Linked DNA regions of Homo sapiens: region 1 is linked to region 2. The links come from fine-mapping of genetic effects on gene expression. A gene starts in region 2. The other region holds a variant in brackets. All regions are shown on one strand. Distances are between the middles of the regions.

Region 1 (11,385 bases), 44 kb before region 2:
CCAATATTCATTTTCTGTTTTTTTGGTAGTGGCCATCCTAAAGGGTGTGAGATTATATTTCACTGTGGTTTTTATTTGCATTTCCCCCGTTATTAGTGATACTGAGTATCTTTTCATATGCTTACAGGCCATTTGCAGATCTGCTTTGGAGAAATGTCTATTTAAGTCCTTTGCCCATCTTTAAATTTTTTTGTTTGGGTTTTTTATTTTTTACTTTTTTGGTTATTGAGTTGTAGAAGATCTTACATATTCCGAATTTCAGCTTTTAACTAGATATATGGATTGCAAATATTTTCTCTCATTTTGTAGATTGCCTTTTTACTTTGTTGATTATTTCCTTTGCTGTGAAGTTTTTAAGTTTGATAGAGTTCCATTTGTCAATTTTTGCTTTTTTTCTGCCTGTGCCTTTGGTATCATGTTTAAGAAATCATTGCTAAATCCAATGTCATAAACTTTTTTCTCCCTGTTTTCTTCTATGAGTTTTATAGTTTCAGGTTTTATGTTTAGGTCTTTAATCTATTTTGAGTAAATTTTTGCATATAGTAGTATTGGTAAGGGTCTAACTTCATTCTTTTGCATGTGGATATCCAATTTTTCTAGCACCATTTGTTGAAGAGACTGTTCTTTTTGCCCTCTTGTGTAGCTTTCCCACCATTGTTGAAGATCATTTAATCATATACCTTAGGGATTATTTCTGGGTTTTCTGTTCTATTCCATTGGTCTATATGTCTGTTTTTTTATGCATTATCATGCTGTTTTGATAACTGTAACCTTGTAATATATTTTAAAAGAAGTGTGAGGCCTCTAGTTTCTTTTTTTTTCTCGAGATTGTTTTGACTGTTCTGGGTCCTTTGAGATTATGTATGCATTTTAGTGTATTTTTCTATTTTTATAAAAAAAAGCCATTGGGATTTTGATAGAGATTACATTGAATCTGTAGATTGCTTAGGGTAGTATGCACAGTTTAACAATATTAAGTCTTCCAATCTGTGATCACAAGATGTCTTTCCATTTGTTTGTGTCTTTTTATTTTTATTTTATTTTTTATTTTTTTTTGAGATGGAGTCTCACTCTGTCACCCAGGCTGGAGTGCAGTGGTATGATCTCAGCTCACTGCAACCTGCATTTCCCGGGTTCACACCATTCTCCTGCCTCAGACTCCCGAGTAGCTGGAACTACAGGCTCCCGCCACCACGCCCAGCTAATTTTTGTATTTTTAGTGGAGATGGAGTTTCACCGTGTTAGCCAGGATGGTCTCGATCTCCTGACCTCATGATCTGCCCGCCTCAGCCTCCCAAAGTGCTGGGATTACAGGCGTGAGCCACCGCGCCCTGCCTGTTTGTGTCTTCTTTAATTCCCTTCAGCAGTGTTTTGTAGTTTTTGGTTCATAAGTCTTATGCCTCCTCGATTAGGCTATCCTTAAGTATTTTATTCTCTTTGATTTTAACTGGAATTATTTCCATAATTTCCTTTTCACATTGTTCACTGTTACTGTATTAAAAGGCAACTTATTTTTGTTTGTTGATTTTGTATTCTGCAACTTTGCTGAACTGATTTATTCTAAGAGTTTTTTTTGTGTGTGTGCAGAATCTTTAGGGATTTCTACATATGACAACATCTCATCTGCAAACACAGAATTTTACCTTTCCTTTTCTCTTTGGATGCTTTTTATTTTTCTTACCTGTTTTCTGTGTCTAGGACATCTAGTGCTGTGTTGAACAGAAGCGGCAAGAGTGGGCATCCTTGCTTTGTTTCTGATGTTAGAGGAAAAGCTTTCAGCTTCTCATTTTTGTGTATGATGTTGGCTGTAAGTTTTCTTTTTTATTTTTATTATTATTATACTCAAGTTCTGGGATACATGTGCAGAATGTGCAGGTTTGTTACATAGGTATACACGTGCCATGGTGGTTTGCTGCACCCATCAACCTGTCATCTACATTAGGTATTTCTCCTGATGCTATCTCTGCCCTAGCCCCCCACCCCCCGACAGGCCCCGGTGTGTGATGTTCCACTCCCTGTGTCCATGTGTTCTCATTGTTCAACTCCCACTTATGATGAGAACATGCGGTGTTTGGTTTTCTGTTTCTGTGTTAGCTTGCTGAGAATGATGGTTTCCAGCTTCATCCATGTCCCTGCAAAGGATATGAACTCATCCTTTTTATGGCTGCATAGTATTCCATGGTGTATATGTGCCACATTTTCTTTATCCCGTCTATCACTGATGGGCATTTGGGTTGATTCCAAGTCTTTGCTATTGTGAATCATGCCACAATAAACATACTGATTTATAATCTTTGGGTATATACTCAGTAATGGGATTGCTGGGTCAAATGGTATTTCTGGTTCTAGATCCTTGAGGAATCACCACACTGTCCTCCACAATGGTGGAACTAATTTACACTCCCACCAAAAGTGTAAAAGTGTTCCTGTTTCTCCACATTCTCTCCAGCATCTGTTGTTTCCTGACTTTTTAATGATCACCATTCTAACTGGCATGAGATGCTATCACATTGTGGTTTTGATTTGCATTTCTCTAATGACCAGTGATGATAAGCTTTTTTTCGTATGTTTTTTGACTGCATAAATGTCTTCTTTTGAAAAGTATCTGTTCATATCCTTCTCCCACTTTTTGATGGGGTTGTTTTTTTCTTGTAAATTTGTTTAAGTTCCTTGTAGATTCTGGATATTAGCCTTTTGTCAGATGTATAGATTGCAAAAATTTTCTCCCATTCTGTAGGTTGCCTGTTCACTCTGCTGATAGTTTCTTTTGCTGTCCAGAAGCTCTTTAGTTTAATTAGATCTCATTTGTCAATTTTGTCTTTTGCTGCCATTGCTTTTGGTGTTTTCGTCATCATGAAGTCCTTGCCTATGCCTATGTCCTGAATGGTATTGCCTAGGTTTTCTTCTAGGGTTTTTATGGTTTTAGGTCTTACATTTAAGTCTTTAATCCATCTTGAGTTAATTTTTGTATAAAGTGTTAGGAAGGGATCCAGTTTCAGTTTTCTGCATATGGCTAGCCAGTTTTCCCAACACCATTTATTAAATAGGGAATCCTTTCTTATTGCTTGTTTTTGTCAGGTTTGTCAAAGATCAGATGGTTGTAGATGTGTGGCGTTATTTCTGAGGCCTCTGTTCTGTTCCACTGGTCTATATATCTGTTTTGGTACCAGTGCCATCCTGTTTTGTTTACTGTAGCCTTGTAGTATAGCTTGAAGTCAGGTAGCGTGATGCCTCCAGCTTTGTTCTGTTTGCTTAGGAGTGTCTTGGCTTTATGGGCTCTTTTTTGGTACCATATGAAATTTACAGTAGTTTTTTCTAATTCTGTGAAGAAAGTCATTGGTAGCTTGATGGGATACCATTGAATCTATAAATTATTTTGGGCAGTATGGCCATTTTCATGATATTGATTCTTCCTATCTATGAGCATGGAATGGAATGTTTTTCCCTTTGTGTTCTTTCTTATTTTCTTGAGCAGTGGTTTATAGTTCTCTTTGAAGAGGTTCTTCACATCTCTTGTAAGTTGTATTTCTAGGTATTTTATCCTCTTTGTAGCAATTGTGAATGGGAGTTCACTCATGATTTGACTCTTGTTTGTCTATTATTTGTGTATAGGAATGCTTATGATTTTTGCACATTGATTTTCAGTTTCTCATTATTGTGTATGATGTTGGCTATGAGTTTTCTTATATGGCCTTTATTATATTGAGGTTGTTTCCTTCAGTCTTTGTTGAGTATTTTTATCGTGAAAGGGTATTCAATTTTGTTAAATGCCTTTTATGTATCAATTGAGATTATTGTGGTTTTTGTCCTTCATTCTGTTAATAGCATGTATTACACTGAATTTTTGTATGTTGAACCATCCTTGTATTCTAGGAGTTAAGTCCCACTTGATCATGATGTAAAGTCCCTTTAATGTGTTGTTGAATTCAGTTTGCTAGTATTTTTTGAGTTTTTTTTTCATCATTATTTTTTCAGAGCTATTAGCTTGTAGTTTTCTTTTAATACCTTCTGATTTTGGTATCATGGTAATGCTGGCTTCATAGAGTGAGTATGGAAATTTTCCGTCCTTTTCAATTTTTTGAAAAGAGCTTGGGAAAGATTGGTTCAGTTCTTTAAATGTTTGATAGAATTTTCCAGTGAAGCCATTTGGTCCCGGGCTTCCTGTTGCTTAGAAGTTTTTGATTACTGATTCAGTATCATTACTAGTTATAGAGCTGTTCATATTTTTTATTTCTTTATGATTTTGAAGATTGTTTCTAGCAAGTTATCAATGTCTTCTAGGTTATTCAATTTGTTGATACATAATTTTTCATAGCAGTCTCAGACTCTTTCTGTGACAGCTGTAATGTCTCCTTTCACTTCTGATTTTTGTTATTTCAGTCTTTTCTATTTTTTTATAGTTAAAGGGTTGTCAATTTTATTCACTTTTTCAATGAGCCAATATGCAGTTTTGTTGATTTTTTTTTTTTCTGTTCCTTGTTTCTTTTATTTCTGCTCTAATCTTTATGATTTTCTTCCTTTTGCCAACTTTGGGTTTAGTTATTCTTTTTCTAGTTTCTTGTGGTATAAATATAGGTTGAGCATCCCAAATCTGAAATTCTGAAATCCAAAATGCTATAAAATCCTAAGCTTTTGGAGCACTGACATGACACTTAAAGGAAATGCTCATTGGAGCATTTTGGAATTCAGATTTTTAGATTTGGGATTCTCCAATGGTAAGTATAATGCAAATATTTCAAAATTCAAAGAAATCCAAAATCTTCTGGTCCTAAGCATTTCAGATGAGGAGTACTCAACCTGTTAAAAAATCAGGAGCTGGGTGTGTTTTCTTAGTTGTAGCAAGCTGTGTCAACTTCCCTCTGGGATGTTACACATTTTCTGGTACTGCCATGAGCCTGTGTACTCTCCTTTGTTCTCGATGCCCCACAGGCATCCAGAGTATGCTGGTTCCCCATCAGCACCCATATCAGTTGAGACAGGAAACAGTCCCTTGGACAGCCCTCCAAGAAGCTGGAATGTTGAACATGTGTTCTACTCTTCTCTTTCTCTCC[C/T]AATGGAGAAGCTTCTTAATCCCAAACTATGTTAGTTTGGAGTGGTGGGGGGAAGGATGCTGATGTGGATAAAATGAAATGGCTTTTCTTACTGATTTCATTGCAGATGTTCTTGGCTTTGAGCTTACCTGGGGTACTGTGACTTCCTAATTGGTTACTGTCATTGTCATAAAAGGTTTTTGGATCATATATTGTTGCTAAAGTCAGTGTTTTTGTCAGGGAGCAAGGTCTTGGGCTTCCTATTTTGTCATCTTGCTGACCTTGGTGTCCAGAGTTTTCATTGGGGTTCTATGGTGTAGGCATTAAACAAAAATTTTTTTTTAATTTTAAATTTTTGTAGAGACAGGTTCTCACTATGTTGCCCAGGCTGGTCTCGAACTCCCAGACTCAAGCAGTCCTCCTGCGTTGGCTTCCCAAAGTGCTAGGATTACAGATGTGAGCCACCACACCCAGCCTGGGTATCACTGATTGAATCATTGTCTGTGCAGTTGACTTAGCCCATTTCTTCTATGCAGAGTGGGTTGATACAATTTGACTGAAAGCCCCAAACCTCTAATCACATTGTCAATCTTTCTGGCATGGCCATTGCCCACCTGAGTCATCTCCTTAGTGTAAACTGTCTAGGGGCCCACCATGCGGCTCCTTGGTCGCATCAACTATCAGATGTGGTTGGAGGGTTTAGAAGTTACTTCCAAGACCCTGGGGACAAAAGTCATCCGAATTCCTTGTTACAAATGTATACAGAAATCGAATACATGGTACAAAATCATTTTTTTCCTAAATAAAAGTTTAACACTCTTAAAAAAGTGATAGATTCTTCTTTTTAATTTTTGTTATTGCCTTATTTTAAGTATTTGAAGGACTGTTTCGTTCTCTAAACAGTAATGAATGCAATCCTATTCCTTTAATTTATACTTTAAATGAGTATGTTACTAAAACACTAAGTGCTAGGATAGAAAAGTGGAATTAGGCTGGGCATGGTGGGTCATGCCTATAATCCCAGCACTTTGGGAGGTGAATCACCTAAGGTCAGGAGTTCGAGACCAGCTTGGCCAAGATGGTAAAACCCTGTCTCTACTAAAAATACAAAAATTAGCTGGGCATGGTGGTGCATGCGTGTAATCCCAACTACTTGGGAGGCTGAGAGAGGAGAATCCCTTGAACCTGGGGGGCGGAGGTTGCAGTGAGCTGAGATCGCATCATTTCACTCCAGCCTGGGTGACAGAACGACACTCCAGATAAAAAAAAAAAAAAGAAAAGAAAGAAAGAAAAGTGGAATTAGTCTTTTGATTAAAAAAAAAAGTTGTCATGCCTGTTTTTTTTTCTGGATGTAAGAGTAGTATGTTCATTGTAAAAAAATTTTATTTGGAAAATAGTTGCATTTAAAATAACAAAAGTCTTTTAATGTTTTATTTCCCACTCTTTTATTGTTTCTGTCAATATGGAGCACTTGAAACGCACTTTATGTTAAAAAATAATACAATTGAGAAAACGACCTAGGGCTTTGTATCATTTTTTTCATACGTAACACTACATGTACACATACACTACATTACCCACTACAGATCAGTAGTTTCCTGTCAGTAAACAATCTTTAAATGCAGTTTTACTATTTCTCTTTTTTTCATGTTAACATTATTTCTAGTTTAATGCATAAATTAGTAGATCTATTAGATAATTTATGATTTTTTCTTGATTGATTTTCAAGGCCTTAAATGTTAATAATTGTTAGTATTGATACCTTACCTTCTCATATTGTTCATGACAATAGCCAGAGCTATTCTTTCAAACTAGTTAGCTCTCTCTTTTATTTATTGTATTTTACTTTTTTTTTGAGACAGGGTCTTTCTCTGTCCCCATGCTGGAGTGCCATGGTGTGATCACAGCTGACTGCAGCCTTGATCTCTCAGTCTCAAGCCATCGTCCCATTTCAGCCTGCTGTGTAGCTGGGACTAAAGGGGCATGCCACCATGCCTGGCTAATTTATTTGTATTTTTTGTAGAAATGGAGTCTTACTATGTTGCCCAGGCTGGTCTTGACTCCTGAACTCAAGTAGTCCTTCTGCCTTGGCGTCCCGAAGTGCTGTGATTACAGGTGTGAGCCACTGTGCCTGGCCAGCTTTCTTTTTTATTGTCTTGCAGTAGGGCTAGAGCTTAGACTTTCCCTTTTCTTAGGCTTTTTCTTTCAAATATCTGTTTTCAGGATTTTCTAGTGTTTATGCTTTAAGCAATACTTTTAATGTCCCCTCAGTTTTTATGAAAAATGCATAGGTTATATTTCACATACATATGTTTACATATTTGGTGTTAAGTTTTTTTTCTTTTTTTTTTTAATTATACTTTAAGTTCTGGGATACATGTGCAGAAAGTGCAGGTTTGTTACATAGTTGTACATGTGCCATGGTGGTTTGCTGCACCCATCAACCTGTCATCTACATTAAGTATTTCTCCTAATGCTATCCCTCCCCTTGCCCCAGCCCCCTGACAGGCCCTGGTATGTGATGTTCCCCTCCCTGTGTCCATGTGTTCTCATTGTTCAGTTCCCACTTACGAGTGAGAACATGTGATGTTTGGTTTTCTGTTCCTGTGTTAGTTTGTTGAGAATGATAGTTTCCAGCTTCATCCATGTCCCTGCAAAGGACATGAACACATTCTTTTTTTATGGCTGCATAGTATTCCATGGTATATGTGCCGCATTTTCTTTATCCAGTGTATCATTGATGGGCATTTGGGTTGGTTCCAAGTTGTTGCTATTGTGGTATAAGTTTTTGTGTATATTTTAAATCTATTTTCCTTGCAGGCAAGCCATTATTTTCTTCTTTTTTTACTTTTTTATCCATTGCTTTAATTGAATATTTATAAGAGGGCACTGTGCTGGAGATGTGAGGATAAATTCTCAAGAAAATTTTAAAATGTGGGTAGAGAGTAATAGATGCTTACATCTGATATTATGCACGGGTAGGTTTTAAAGTTTCATTGATGAGTCTAAAATAAATCTAGAGTTTTGGTTGTTTACTTCCCTTGCCAGGGTCCTGTATTAATAGGAAGTTCACATGGTGGTGTCAACATTGAAGATGTTGCTGCTGAGTCTCCTGAAGCAATAATTAAAGAACCTATTGATATTGAAGAAGGCATCAAAAAGGAACAAGCTCTCCAGGTATGTTGTATTCCTGAAAAATTTCTAGCTTATGATTAGAGAATTATGATACTTAAAGATAACCGTACAACTGAAGTAATTGTCAAAACTTATTTAAACATTTTGAGTGTCAGGAAAGTTAATAACTTGTTTGAAATAGCTCATTTTGGAATTATTTACAATTTTTTCATATCTCTATAAATATTTCAATGTGGATTCTTTTAAAAGAGTCACTGGCCGGGCACGGTGTCTCACGCCTGTAATCCCAGCACTTTGGGAGGCCAAAGTGGGCGGATCATGAGGTCAGGAGTTCGAGACCAGCCTGGCCAATATGGTGAAACCCCCGTCTCTACTAAAAATACAAAAAAAATTAGCCGGGCATGGTGGTGCGTGCCTGTAGTCCCAGCTACTCGGGAGGCTGAGGCAGAAGAATCGCTTGAACCCAGGAGGCGGAGGTTGCAGTGAGCCGAGATTGTGCCACTGCACTCCAGCCTGGGCAACAGAGTGAGACTCATCTCAAAAAAAAAAAAAAAAAAGAGTCACTATACCATTACCCTATCTAGTAAAATTAACAATAATTTCTTTTCTTTTCTTTCTTTCTTTTTTTTTTTTTTTTAAGACGGAGTCTTGCTCCGTCACCCAGGCTGGAGTGTAGTGGCGCCATCTTGGCTCATCACAACCTCCGCCTCCCAGGATCAAGCAATTCTCCTGTTTGAGCCTCCCAAGTAGCTGGGACTACAGGCACCTGCCAACACACCTGGCTAATTTTTTTGTTTTTAGTAGAGATGGAGTTTCATCTTGTTGATCAGGTTGGTCTCGAACTCCTGACCTCAGGTGATCCACCCGCCTCGGCCTCCCAAAGTGCTGGGATTATAGGCGTGAGCCAGCGCGCCCAGCCAACAATAATTTGTTAGTATCATCACTTAGTCATTCAAATTTCTCTAGTTGTTTCAAATCAATTTTTCATTTACAATTTGTTTGAGTCAGCATCCAAATACGGTTCTTCATTGTTATTTTATTTATTTTCTTTGAGATGGAGTCTTGCTCTGTTACCTAGGCTGGAGTGCAGTGTTGCCACCTTGGCTCACTCCAACCTCTGCCTTCTGAGTTCAAGCTATTCTCCTGCCTCAGCCTACCGACTAGCTGGGACTACAGGCGCACGTCACCATGCCCGGCTAATTTTTGTATTTTGTTTTAGTAGAGATGGGGTTTTGCTATGTTGGCCATGCTGGTCTTGAACTCCTGACATCAGGTGATCCACCCTCATCGGCCTCCTGAAGTGCTAAGATTACAGGCGTGAGCCACCGCGTCCGGTCCCTTCATTGTTGTTGACTGATAAGTCTCATAGGTCTTTTATAACTTACAGGTTTCTCTTTTTTGCTGTCATCTTTTTTCTTTCAGTTCAGTTGTTGAAGAAACTGAGGTGATTATTATTCATTGTTTTTCGTAGTCTGGATTTTATATCTCCATGGTTTAAGTGGTTAAACATTTAAAATATTCCTGTGTCCCCTTTATTTTCTGTAAATTGTGTAGAATGGATGGGACACTGTCTTATATATCTCCATAATAGAGCTGTGGTTTATGAATGATTTTAAGAATTCGATGAACGCTGTGGTCCTTCTTTCAATTCTTTCAATTTGTATGTGTTCACAATAAAATTTTGCCTACAGTTTTACTGGTTTTCTCTATTGTCCTTGTGTGCTGCTTCCCCTCCATTCTTCCCCCCACTAAAAAAAAGCCCCCATTGAGTTTAATATTAAGGCCTGTGAGAGTTGCTTGGTAATATTTGTAATGCTGCTATCGAATTAAATTGTTTGCTTTGGATATAAAAATAAGTGACTCATCTTTTCGTTTGTTTGTTTTTGAGATGGAGATTCTTGCTCTGTCGCCCAGGGTGGAGTGTGCAGTGGCGCAATCTTGGCTCACTGCAACCTCCGCCTCCTGGGTTCAAGCAATCCTCCCACCTCAGCCTCCCAAGTAGCTAGGATTACAGGCATGCACCACCATGCCCAGCTAACTTTTCATTGGTATTTTTAGTAGAGACAGGGTTTCACCATATTGGCAGGCTGCTCCAGAACTCCTGACCTCAAGTGATCTGCCTGCCTGGGCCTCCCAAAGTGCTGGGATTACAGGTGTGAGCCGCCGCGCCTGGCCTAATGACTCACCTTAAAAGAAGAATTTGAATATTGGACTTCGAAGTTAAACATTTCTTTTTTTTTATTATTGATTTTTATTTTTAGTTTTTTTTTGAGACGGAGTCTCGCTCTGTCGCCCAGGCTGGAGTGCAGTGGCGCGATCCTGACTCACTGCAAGCTCTGCCTCCCGGGTTCACACCATTCTCCTTAAACATTTCTTAATGAGAAAACTATGTCAGAATAAGTTTGTGGTATTGAAGTACAGCAAGTGCAAGAATTATTTTTTTTTTGAGACGGAGTCTTGCTCTGTTGCCCAGACTGGAGTGCAGTGGCATGATCTTGGCTCACTGAAACCTCTGCCTCCCGGGTTCAAGCGATTCCCCTGCCTCAGCTTCCCAGGTAGCTGGGATTACAGGCGCCCGCCACCATGACCAGCTAATTTTTGTATTTTTAGTAGAGATGGGGTTTCACCATGTTGGCCAGGCTGGTCTCAAACTCCTAACTTCATGATCTGCCCACCTCGGCCTTCCAAAGTGCTGGGATTACAGGCGTGAGTCACCGTGCCCAGCCAAGTGCAAGAATTTTGACCGGCACAAAGTTTTAAGGAGATAAATGTTTCTGATGGAGAATAAAGCAAATTGATTTTGGCAAATGAATGATATAAATGTTTAAAAGGCATGGATTTGATTTATTAGGTAGTTACGTGAAGATGATGACTGGAGAGTGAAATTTAGATGAGGAAGAAAATACTTGATTTACAAGAATACATGGAGGAATAATCTAAGATTATAGCATTTTGCATGATGGTGATGAGTGGAAATAGAGCCTAGCATTAGAAAATTGATGTCATAATGGATTGATCAGAATTACTTTGTAGTTTTCAAATGTTTAAGCCTAAACATTTGGTTTTAGTTTTTGTTTTTTTAGGTGAGTTGTGACATAGTGAAAAACTTTCATAATAAAATGGTACTTTCATATTATTCTTTATTTGAAATAGGTCAAAACAAAAGATTACATTCCTTAGTGCTTTTTTTTTTTTTGTGGGGGGGAGACAGAGTCTCACT
Region 2 (11,385 bases):
AAAGGGCCAGGAGTGGCCTAAGCTTCCTGGTTCATTTGTTGCCAATTATATTAGTCCATTTTCACACTGCTAATAAAGACATACCTGAGACTGGGTAATTTATAGAGGAAAGAGTTTTAATGGACTCACAGTTCCACATGGCTGGGGAGACCTCAATCATGGTGGAAGGCAAGAAGGAGCAAGTCATGTCTTACATGGATGGCAGCAAGCAAAGCGAGAGCTTGTGCAGGGAAACTCCCCCTTATAAAACCAGTGGCTCACGAGCTGTAATCCTAGCACTTTGGGAGGCCAATGCAGGCAGATCACCTGATTGTCAGGAGCTCAAGACCAGCCTGGCCAACATGGTGAAACCCTGTCTCTACTGAAAAAAAAATACAAAAATTAGCCAGGCATGGTGGTGTGTGCCTGTAATCCCAGCTACTCCAGAGGCTGAGGTAGGAGAATTGCTTGAACCCGGGAGGTGGAAGTTGCACTGAACCGAGATTGTGCCATTGCACTCCATCCTGGTGACAGAGCGAGACTGCATCTCAAAAAAAAAAAAAAAAAAAAGAAACCCAAAAAGCAAAAACCAAAAAACCATCAGCTCCCACAAGACTTATTCACTGTCACGAGAACAGCACAGGAAAGACCCACCTCCGTGATTCAATTACCTCCCACCAGGTTCCTCCCACAACACATGAGAATTGTGGGAACACAGTCAAACCATATCACCAACTAAACACTAACATCTATTAATGTCTTCAATAGGAGTTGATTGACCACCAGTTGAGAGCCTGCAGTTCATCAGTTGAGAGTGACAATTCCAGAGTGACCAGCTGAGCATGTAATATGAAGGAAACTGGAGAAAAGCCTCAACTACTTTATGATTATTCCTATGATTTGTTCTTAAAGCAGAGAAGCATCTTTTTATTTGTTTTTGATATCCTTGTTTGATGAAACCAGCATCGTTTTAGAAAAAATATCTTTGTTTTAGTAAAAATGACACATACTCATTGAAAAAATAAACCCCTTCAAAACTGGAATGATACAAGAAAGTGCAGACAAGTAAAGATCACCTGCAGTGCCAGAACCCAGAAATAACTAATGTTAACAGTTTTGTAAACAATCTTCTGGTCGTCTCTAAATATGAGCATATGTGGATAGATATGAATACACTTTTATATAAATAGGATCATAAACATAATGTTCTATAATCTGCATTTCTTCAAATAAGGATCTTTCCATGGCATCAAATATAGGACTACATAATTTTTAATAGCTGCACATACAAGAGAATGTGTATATCATGGTTTATTTAACCTAGCCTTGCAATTATTGACATTTGGTTTATATGTCTTTAACATTATAAATAATAGGTGAACACTCTGGTGCATATGTCTTTCAGCACATGGGTAATTTCTCCTTAGGGTAAAAACCTGTAAGTGGAATAGCTGTGTAAAAGCATGAACCGCTTTCCAGAAAGTCTCTTTTGGTTACTCTTCCATTCATAATGCACAATAATATTTCCATACTTGATAACATTGTATTGCTAATTCCAATGGGCAAAAACCATGTCCTGTTTAATGTTGATTGAGCTTTCATCTGTTGACTGGGCATTTGTGGAAGTGTATGTGTGTGTGTGTTTGTGTGTGTCAGCGTGTGACTTCCTTTTCATGTTCTTTTTTTTTTTTTTTTTTTTTTTGCGACGGAGTCTCGCTCTGTCGCCCAGGCTGGAGTGCAGTGGTGCGATCTCGGCTCACTGCAAGCTCCGCCTCCTGGGTTCACGCCATTCTCCTGCCTCAGCCTCCTGAGTAGCTGGGACTACAGGCACCCGCCCCGCTAATTTTTTGTATTTTTAGTAGAGACAGGGTTTCACCGTGTTAGCCAGGATGGTCTCGATCACCTGACCTCGTGATCCGCCTGCCTCAGCCTCCCAAAGTGCTGGGATTACAGGCGTGAGCCACCGCGCCCAGCCCTTTTCATGTTCTTTGACTGTTTTTCTATTGACTGTTCATTCTTCCTAGTATTAATAACTTTTTGTATATTTGAGATTAACCATTTTTGCCTATTATGTATTTTATATATATGTCATATGTCATTTTAAATATAATGAAATGTATTAGTCTTTGTGGTTTCTAGTTTTCATGATATGTTTTGAAAGGCTTAATTGTTTTGTTACAAAGTCTGAACTTGAGTTATGAATGCAAATTTCCCCTCTCAAATGCCTAATCTGTTTCCCAAACACCATTTACTTATCCCTTAAGGGATTTACTTTTCCCTATTTGATCTATTTCCCACCAATTTTAAAATGTCATCTTTATCATATACTAACTTCCTGTATGTTCTTGCGTGTATATGAAACTGGCACATACAGGGAGACTCTTTATTTAACTTTTACTTAAAGTAGGAGGTAGGAAAGAGATCTGTTGAAACCATGACAGAGAGTGTTGCAGCGCCTGTCAAAGTTATCCTTGCTTATTTGTAGAAAAATTGAACTTTCCATTTTCCTAACTTTCAACTTGCAATTGAATGACACTGATTCTACTAGGAAAAAAGTAAAAGCTATACTATTTGATGCCAGATGTATGACTGTGGGCTGATGAGGAAGAACTGGAAACAAATGACAGGTGATTCACTGCTTTGTGTCTGGTGTGCCATGACTCTCTTGAAGGGGGGCAGTGTTGATCTGAATCTTTTTGTCTAATGCTTTTTCTTCCTCTGGGAGGGATGCTGAAGAGGGGCAGCTGAAGGAGCAGTCTTAAGCAAATTGGTCATGGCTTTCTTAAATATTGTGATTCGATTGATATGGAACATTTTTTCAGTCTGTGAGAGACTTTTCATTATGGACTAGCTCATAAAAAACCGTAGATTTAATTTGCCCAGGCTGTTGGTTCTCTTGTGTTTGTTATCATACGTCAGCATGAAACCTTTGGCCTTTGTGGAAGCCTTGTGGAGACCACTGAACAGACTTGGAGCCATATCTGACTCGCCTGCCAGCATTCCTGATGTTCAGTGCCTGTTATTGCCCCTCTCCATGGCATTCTCCTCTGTGGTTATGTGAAAGGAAAATAAATCACTAAGCCAAGGGAAAAATCAAACTGGGAGCTATGTCAGGCAAACCTGCCTCCCATTTTATTCCTAAATAACATAGCTACATACCTCCCTCGCAATTTGCCACAGATCCTCGTCCACAAGGAAATTCACTGTGGACAAAGGACAGACAGAACTCAAAGTCATCCCTCTGAGACTCACCTGAGACAAATGCATATCTGATTGCTTCCTTTGCCCTATTGTTTATGTAAAAATGCAGATTCACTGAGTCAGACTAAGTTGTGTATTGAGTGGAAGGCTCATCAGGACTCAAAAGAATGCACCCTAATGTCTTTTATCTACTTCTAACCTGGAAGCCCCCACATTGAGTTGTCCCGCCTTACCTGGCCAAACCAATGTACATCTTACACATGTTGACTAATGTCTCATGTCTCCCTAAAATGTATAAAAGCAAGCTGTACCCCAGCCACCTTGGGCACATGTCGTCAGGGCCCCCTGAGGCTGTGTCACGGGTGCCTCCTTAATCTTGGCCAAAAAGACAAAAGAAAAACTTACTAAATTGACTGAGACCCGTCTCAGATACTTTGGGTTAACAGTTAGGTTCTACCCTTTGATGCCTGTTTACTTGACTGTGTACTGAGACCAGTTGCTTCACTGAACATTAATACCACAACAGGCAACGATTTTGTTTTGTGGTAGGGTACTTGGCCTAGTGCCCATTTTGTAGATGTGTCATTGCTGAGAAGGCAGAACAGTAAGGGGATTTAAAAAATTTATACACTGTTATACATTGTCACTGAAATGCCAAATGATTTAGCTTTTGTTATTGTCACTCAGCCTGCTTACTTGAGCAGGGTTTGGCAAGCCAGTAATTTAGGGGACTTGTGAGTGAAATACCATGTGAATAAAGTCCATTGTTTCCTTAGTTAGAAAAAGGCTAATTGACTTACATGCTGTTTCTGAGGTGAGGAAGTTCCATTAACAAAACGAAACCAAGCCAAAGAATCCAGTGTTTCTCAATTTAACCTAGTCAAATATCTGACATCTCTTTGAGAAATGGATACCCAGTGTCAATAATCCTATGAGGTTAATGGCAGTTAAACAATGGTTTGCTTAAACAGTAACTGGCAAATGCTATAGGGCAAAGCCTATTTGTGGTGTAGGGGGTGCTTGCATCAGTTGATCGGCTATGCTGTATTCACTTGCTTTCTGAAATATCTGTGGCAGGGACAAAAGTTCCTATTTGGTGCTCACTTTGGACTTTTATTTTTGTTTCCTTTGCAGTTGCAAAGATCTTTTCTGTAGCCTCAGCTGATCTAATGCAGTGGTTCTCAGATTTCAGTGTACATAAATCTTTTGGATGCCTGTTAAGCATACAGATTCCTAGGCCCATACCCAGCTATTCTAATTCAGCTGGCCTGGCAACAGGCATGTTTAATAAATTTCTTAGGTGATTCTAATGCATGTGTTCCTTTGAAAAAAAATTGGATTGGGTCAGGATGTAGGAGAAAAGGAATTGATACCGTTTTATGCATGTGTTATGTACTAGATCTGGTTATGGCAGGATGCCTCATTTCAGTGGTTCCCTTCTAAACCCCAAATACCATGTCCACCTGTTCGAGACATAATATCCCTATGTTTGTGAGAACCTGTGCTTAGGGAATGATTCCTTCAGTTTGAAGCTTCTTATTGTCCTTTAAAATGCAGATATGCAGGAGGAGATATCTTTTTATGGCTTAGCAGAATGCTGCTCAAAGCGCCAGTCTCTGAAGCTCTTTGTTCCTGACTTGCAACCAGGTAAGGATCTTTTGCCAGGATTTAAGTCAATTATGTCATGAAGCACACTATTTAGTTCATCTGAAATATATTTTTATCTTGGTAGCAAGGTAGCAAGACTTTTCCAATGCAGGAAGCTTCAGTGCTTTCATTTATATTCTGATGTAAGTTATCTTATTGCAGACCGGTAACAAACACTGTCTTCACAGCCATTTGAGCCTTAGGTATGAATGGAGCAGCTTTGGGTGGAGGGATATCTCCATGACTGGGTGGGAAAAGGTCCAGAAAGACAACATTGGAGTCACCAAATACTAACTGTTCACTAGGCTTGGCTGTTATAAAAGCTGCCAAAATTCATGCTTATGGTTTGACTGGATTTCTTTTCTCTGCTTAGTATGCCCTTCAGTAGAAGTGCCAAAAAAAAAAAAAAAAAGACAAACCCAGTTATATAGCCCAAAGAAGAGGATTAAGTTAGTTATCTGCAGCCTCTGGATTGACTGTGAAGTCTGTTTGAAAATGGGAGTGTTGGCCAGTAAAATGTTTCCCTAAAAAACTCGAAGCTGAGGCCGGGCGCAGTGTCTCACGCCTGTAATCCCAGCACTTTGGGAGGCTGAAGCGGGTGGATCATGAGGTCAGGAGATCGAGACCATCCTGGCTAACACAGTGAAACCCCGTCTCTACTAAAAATACAAAGAATTAGCTGGGCGTGGTGGCAGGCGCCTGTAGTCCCAGCTACTCGGGAGGCTGAGGCAGGAGAATGCCGTGAACCCGGCAGGCGGAGCTTGCAGTGAGCCCAGATAGCGCCACTGCACTCCAGCCTGGGTAACAGAGCAAGACTCCGTCTCAAAAAAAAAGAAAAAACAAAACTTGAAGCTGAGTGTTTCTGGGGACTCTCATGAGCATTTTTGACCATCAATTTAGAAGAAATATTCTGATATTACTATTGCATTACCATTATTTTATCTAGATTAAATTGCTTCATTTCTTAAATGGTTCAGTCTAAATGGGAAGACTTGATAATAAACAAATAATAACTAAAAGGATTAGAAAGATTCTATGATTCTAGAATTCTTTCAAGTACACAGTTATTTTAGAGATCCACTTCCAGTATTTATTCACTTCATTCAACAAATATTAAGTGCACACCTCCTATGTGCCACACAATGTACCAGGGCTACATGGTATACAATGATCAATAGGAGACATGGTCCCTTATGGTGTTTGTAATGTAGTGGGGGAGATATAAGCAATTAAATCCAAGTCAATGTATGAATAAATATATAACAATGAATCGTGAACCTCATACGAAATGAAAAGGCAAATAGTTAATAATTGTCAGACATAAATTTCAGTTCAGTTGAATTCAGCAAATGGTTTTTGAGCATCTATTTTGTGCCAGGCACTGTGCTTAGTATTAAGGATACAGAGATGCATAGGAGAACATTCTTGTCCTCAGATCCACTTGGCACTATACCTGAGTAACACCTACGCCTCTCCTCAACTCCCATTTGATTTTGTTGGTTGATTTGTGTAGGTTTGGCTATTTCACCTGCTGTTCATTCCACACTCTTAGTGTGTAACAGTGAGGTAGGGCTTTCTGGTACCTGTTTGTCTGCAGATGTAGAATCAACTCTTGTGTTTGTGAATTTGACTCAGAGAAAATATTTAAATGATTTGACCTTTGAGATGCCCAGCTGAGCTGCTGAGCGGACACAGACTCAACAGAACTAAGAATTGTTGAACATCTATCATAAAATTATAGGCTTAGATTCAAAGTGATCACAGGATATGCTCATTTCTTCCCTTCCCTTCCCTTCCCTCCCTCCCTTCCTTCCTTCCTTCCCTTTCTTCCTTCCTTCCTTTCTCTCTTTTCTCTTTTTCTCTTTCTCTCTATTTTTCTCTCTTTCCTTCCTTTCTTTCCTTCCTTTTCTTTCTTTTTTTTTTTAGCTTTGCTTTGCTTTCTTCTTTCTCAGGGTCTCCCTATGTTGCCCAGGCTAGACTCAAACCTCTGGGCTCAAGCAATGCCCCTGTCTCAGCCTCTTAAGTAGCTGGGACTACAGGCATGCACCACCATGCCCAGTTTGCTCATTTATTTATTGTATCTGGGAGTCTTCCACATGCTAGGCACTGTTCTAGGCACGGGGTAATAGCAGTGAACAAAACAGACACACACCCCCTCCCCTCATGCAACTTGCACCTCACCCAACGTTTAACATATCCTGACAGTCGGTCATTCCTTTCAACTTAAACATCTTCACTATCAGAGAACTCATCTCCTTATGGGGAGTTGTCTCATTTTTAAACAGTTTGAAATATTGGAAAGCTCTTTATTATACTGATCCCAAATCCTTTTCCCTGTAGCTTTTACCTGCTAGTCTGACTAAGGTTCTATATTTGAACCAGTTTGGAAATAGCTAATCCTTCTTTCTGGGAACCCTTCAAATATTTGAAAAAAATACTTGTGTTTCTTTTAAGGCTCCCCATTTTGTTAGCTGATATAGAGAAATATGTGTAGATACACGAGTACTTGGATATCATCTAATAAAGCAATTGCACCTCGAATTTTGCTTGTTGGGTGTATTTGTCCTTTAGTTCTCAGAATCTATGAAGTGCAGGCATGTTAACCATCTCTCCATCACGGTTGAAATAGAAACTTACCCTTTCATGTGCAGTCATTTGATGCTCACAACAATCCTGTGTGCCAGGTGTTATCATCACCATTTAACAGATAAGGACGCTGAGATGAAAAAGTTAAGAAGTGGCTTACCCTGTGTGTCATAGCCTATGACCTGAACCAGGCCTTCTGCCTTCAAATTTTATGTTTTTTGTTTCTTTCTTTCTTTTTTTTTTTTTTTGTATTTTTTTGTAGAGACAGGATCTTGCTATATTGCCCAGGCTGGTCTAGAACTCCTGAGTTCAAGCCATCCTCCTGTCTCAGCATCCCGAAATGCTGGGATTACAGGTGTAAGCCACAGTGCCCAGCCTCATGTTCTTCATACTCTATTACTACCCACCTCCTCCATACCTTGCTGGTCTTAAAGTGGAAGTGATGTTAGGCTTTAGAATTTCTGACATCAGATAGTTGTTGCTGGAAGAATAGTGAGTTCAATCTACAAAGGATCCTTTTCTGCATGTTAGGAGAACTAGATCGGAGGGCAGTTCCTGGTGGCGCCCACTGTGCCTTACCACTCCTGGGATTCGTTTCACTTATTCCTCTTCCCTGCTTCCCTTCATTTCCCTGCCTTTCTTTTCTATTCTTTGTTTTTCTTTTTGCTTTTCTCTTCTGCTAATACATAGGTTTTACTCTCATGGTCTGAGCTCTGACTTCAGAGCTAAAGCATTCTTTGTCATTGGCACGAGCAGTGGCCAGACTCCAAGTACCTCTGAGTCTGCAGAGGAGGTGCAATAAGCATACCCATTAAGCCACCAAATTGAAAAGTATTTGGAGGAAATTGCTCCAGCAGTAGATTCTATGCTCCATGTTAGGGGGCAGTGAGAAAATCCCACATAAAGTATAATATACAACTTAGTAAACTACAGTAAAGCTGGAGGGAGTTTTGGTTTAGGACATAGATACCAAATGTATAATGGGATGGTGCTGCTATAGCTTGGATATCTGACCCTCTAAACCTCAAGTTGAAATTTGATCTTCAGGGTTGGAGGTGGGGCCTCGTGGGAAGTATTTGGGTCTTGGAGGAATCTCTCATGAATGACTTGGTACTATCCTTGAGGTAATGAATGAGTTCCCACTCTATAAGTTCCTGTGAGAGCCTGAGAGCTTGTTGTTAAAAAATGTCTGGCACCTCCCTTCTCTCTTTTGGCTTCATTCTTGCCATGTGCTTTCTGCATATGCAGCCCCTATTCACCTTCCAGCATGAGTGGAAGCAGTCTGAGGCCCTCACCAAAAGCAGATGCTGGCTCCATGCTTCTTGTATAGCCTGCAAAACCATGAGCCAAATAAACCTCTTTTCTTTATAAATCACCCAGTCTCAGGTATTCCTTTATAGCGACACAAATGGACTAAGATAGTGCTGTTATAATCATATTCCAGAAAAGCTGTTAATGTTGCATGGGAGTAGAAAGAATATCAGACCTTATGAGAAGGAATGAGACATGAACTCCCTAGAGGCAGCATAGTGTAAGGAACATCTTGCCCCTTAATTTTCAAGGATTAAAAAATCTCTTCTGTCTCTGGCTAAAAATAACTCCAGTAGTTCACTGATGCTGTACCTTTAATCAGCAAAGAATACATATCTGGGTAGTAAATAACTTATGCAGAGTAAGATTTGTGCTTACAATTTGCTTTCATTTTACTATAAGCTGTCACCTTAGGTCGGCATTGGCCAGGATACTGCTTTTGCCGTTTTTAGACAAGATAGTGCTATTATTAACTGCCCAGGAATTAGCTGCTTTTTCTCATATGGAAATCTCTATCACCCTGAAAGACAGCATCAGAGATTTATTTTCCTCAACTTAAACCAAATAGTTCTTTATGGGTTAAAGGTTCTGTCCTTATTTTCTATGGTGACACACCTAAGATCCAGCAAAAGGGCGTCTGCAGGAGGGATCGTTTCTTTCTCTGAGAGGTAGAGCTACTGCTTACCTCGTAACTCAATCTATTTCATATTTCAGTTTTATTTATATTCTTCTTTCAACAAAAGGACTTTTGGTGGCTACAGCAAAAGACTTGCAGTTCCATTTGGTTAAACAAAATAGACACTTAGTTGGAAATAGGGAGTGCAAAGATGACTGAGGCATGATTTCTGCCCTTTAAGGAGCTTCGAGGGAAATACAGGAAAAACACGCTGCCCTTTTACTAGACTGTAGCTTTCACAATGGTATATTCAGGGTGCTGAGGGAGAAGAGATGGTGTGGAGAGAGGGAAGGCTTTCAAAGCCAGATCTTGAAGCAGGAGTAGGAATCTACCAGGTGGGGACAGGTAGGCTGGAGGGACTGAGCACACGTGGAGAGGTGAGATACTGTGGCTTGTGAGCAGGTACCATGTGCCCAGGGACACTAGCCTAGAAATGGAACATTAGGATAGAAGCAGGGAGGAGGACTAGGTGATGAAATATGAAGGTAGTGGTGTTCCTCCATTCATTTCTGAGTTTCCAGGCAGCCAGTAGGGCCCAGGGCTCAAAGGATCTTTATGAGTAGTTATTCTTGAATGACAGCATAATAGAGAAAGGACACTTACTTCTACACTTCACACCTGTAAGGTGAATTTAAATTTGTTTTGTAACCACTTGTTGTGGGACTTGGAGTCTTAATCATTTCTTCTGAGCTTCAACCTTGTCTTCCAAAGGTACTTTAGATTTTCTACATCTAATGGTGGCAAATAAATCCACTAGCTGCCAAATACATGGGAAATGATCTGTGAAAACCACAAGTGGCCCAACAAACTGTACGTCTTCAATTTGACAGCACAAAGGAATTATTGGTTAGTATTTCATTGGTTGAATCTTTTGTTTAATCTGGCCTGGAATATTAGTATTAAAAGACTTAAAAATTTATTTGGAAATAATTCCAAACTTACTAGAAGTTGCTAAAATAAAAATAGTACAAGGAATAGTCATGTATCCTTCACCCAAATTTGCCTATTCTTAACATTTCACTCCATTTGCTTAATCTTTTGCTCTCTCTTTCTCTTTCTTTCTTCATGATGTTTTTTGAACCAATTGAGAGTAAGCTACATATATCATGGCTCTTTCTCCCTAAATGCTTTGAGTATTTCTTAAGGATAAGAATATTCTCTTCTATTGTTTTATCCACAGAACAGAAGCTGAAAAAGCATACTGCTTGCATTTCAGGTGAATAATTTATGATTTATTCTTCAGCTTTAAATTAAACTGATTAATTCACTTCAAGGCCTTAAATTATCTTCAATGTCTTCTCTCCTTCATATAATACCTTAATTTTTCTATTGTATTTTGTCTTTTTGATCAAGCTATCAGGATTGCATTAGCTCTATAATGCGGTAATATTGATGAGATATTAGGTTTTAAAAGGCTCTTCCATTATTTTGAGAAAAGAAAAATGAATTTTATAGGGTTCATCCTATGCTACCTCAAAGCTTAAAATTAGATTATCTTTAAAAGCACTCTTATTGGAGATTACCAGTCATGTCTCCAGTCTTAGTCTATAAATATAGGAGAATCTCCTTACCCTTAAGGTCAGTTATGGCAATATACTGCTTTAATTCTAGTGTATTTTTCATTTCAGGGGGCAAATGTACAATGAGTTGGCCCAAATTTTTAGTAAAATTCGTGATGCTTGTATGTTAGCTGTCCAAAAAACTGTGGGTTTATCCAAGTTTACAATATAGAGAACTGAGGTTAGGATTTCATGAAGGAAGCATGTACTATATGGAAGTAATTTTTTAAAAAATTGTATGGTCATCTACATTTACATGAAGAATTCTGTACATGTTAAAAGTGAGGATGGCCAAATGTAAATAATGTAAATTTCATGACTGGGCCAATTAAGAAAGAGATATATATGTATATATATGCACGTTTAATGTGTAACTTTTGTATGCTGAGTGGTACGCACATTTTTTTATTTGTTTTTGAGGAAATT

What was found. PIP is the estimated chance that this variant, and not a neighbour inherited with it, causes the effect.
Region 1: its variant is the best candidate, but not a certain one, in a credible set for the expression of LINC00562 in whole blood (TOPMed, PIP 0.76).

What each region holds. Positions count from the first base shown.
Region 1 is chr13:47,970,086-47,981,470 of GRCh38, reverse strand. It overlaps SUCLA2 (succinate-CoA ligase ADP-forming subunit beta), which reads left to right. Exons shown (of 11, transcript NM_003850.3): 5 at 8,079-8,207. Among named protein-coding and RNA genes, the nearest start is that of SUCLA2, 25 kb to the left of the region's middle. The variant C/T (reference allele first, on the strand shown) is at 5,052.
Region 2 is chr13:47,926,136-47,937,520 of GRCh38, reverse strand. It overlaps LINC00562 (long intergenic non-protein coding RNA 562), which reads left to right and starts at 4,899. Exons shown (of 1, transcript NR_047492.1): 1 at 4,899-7,368.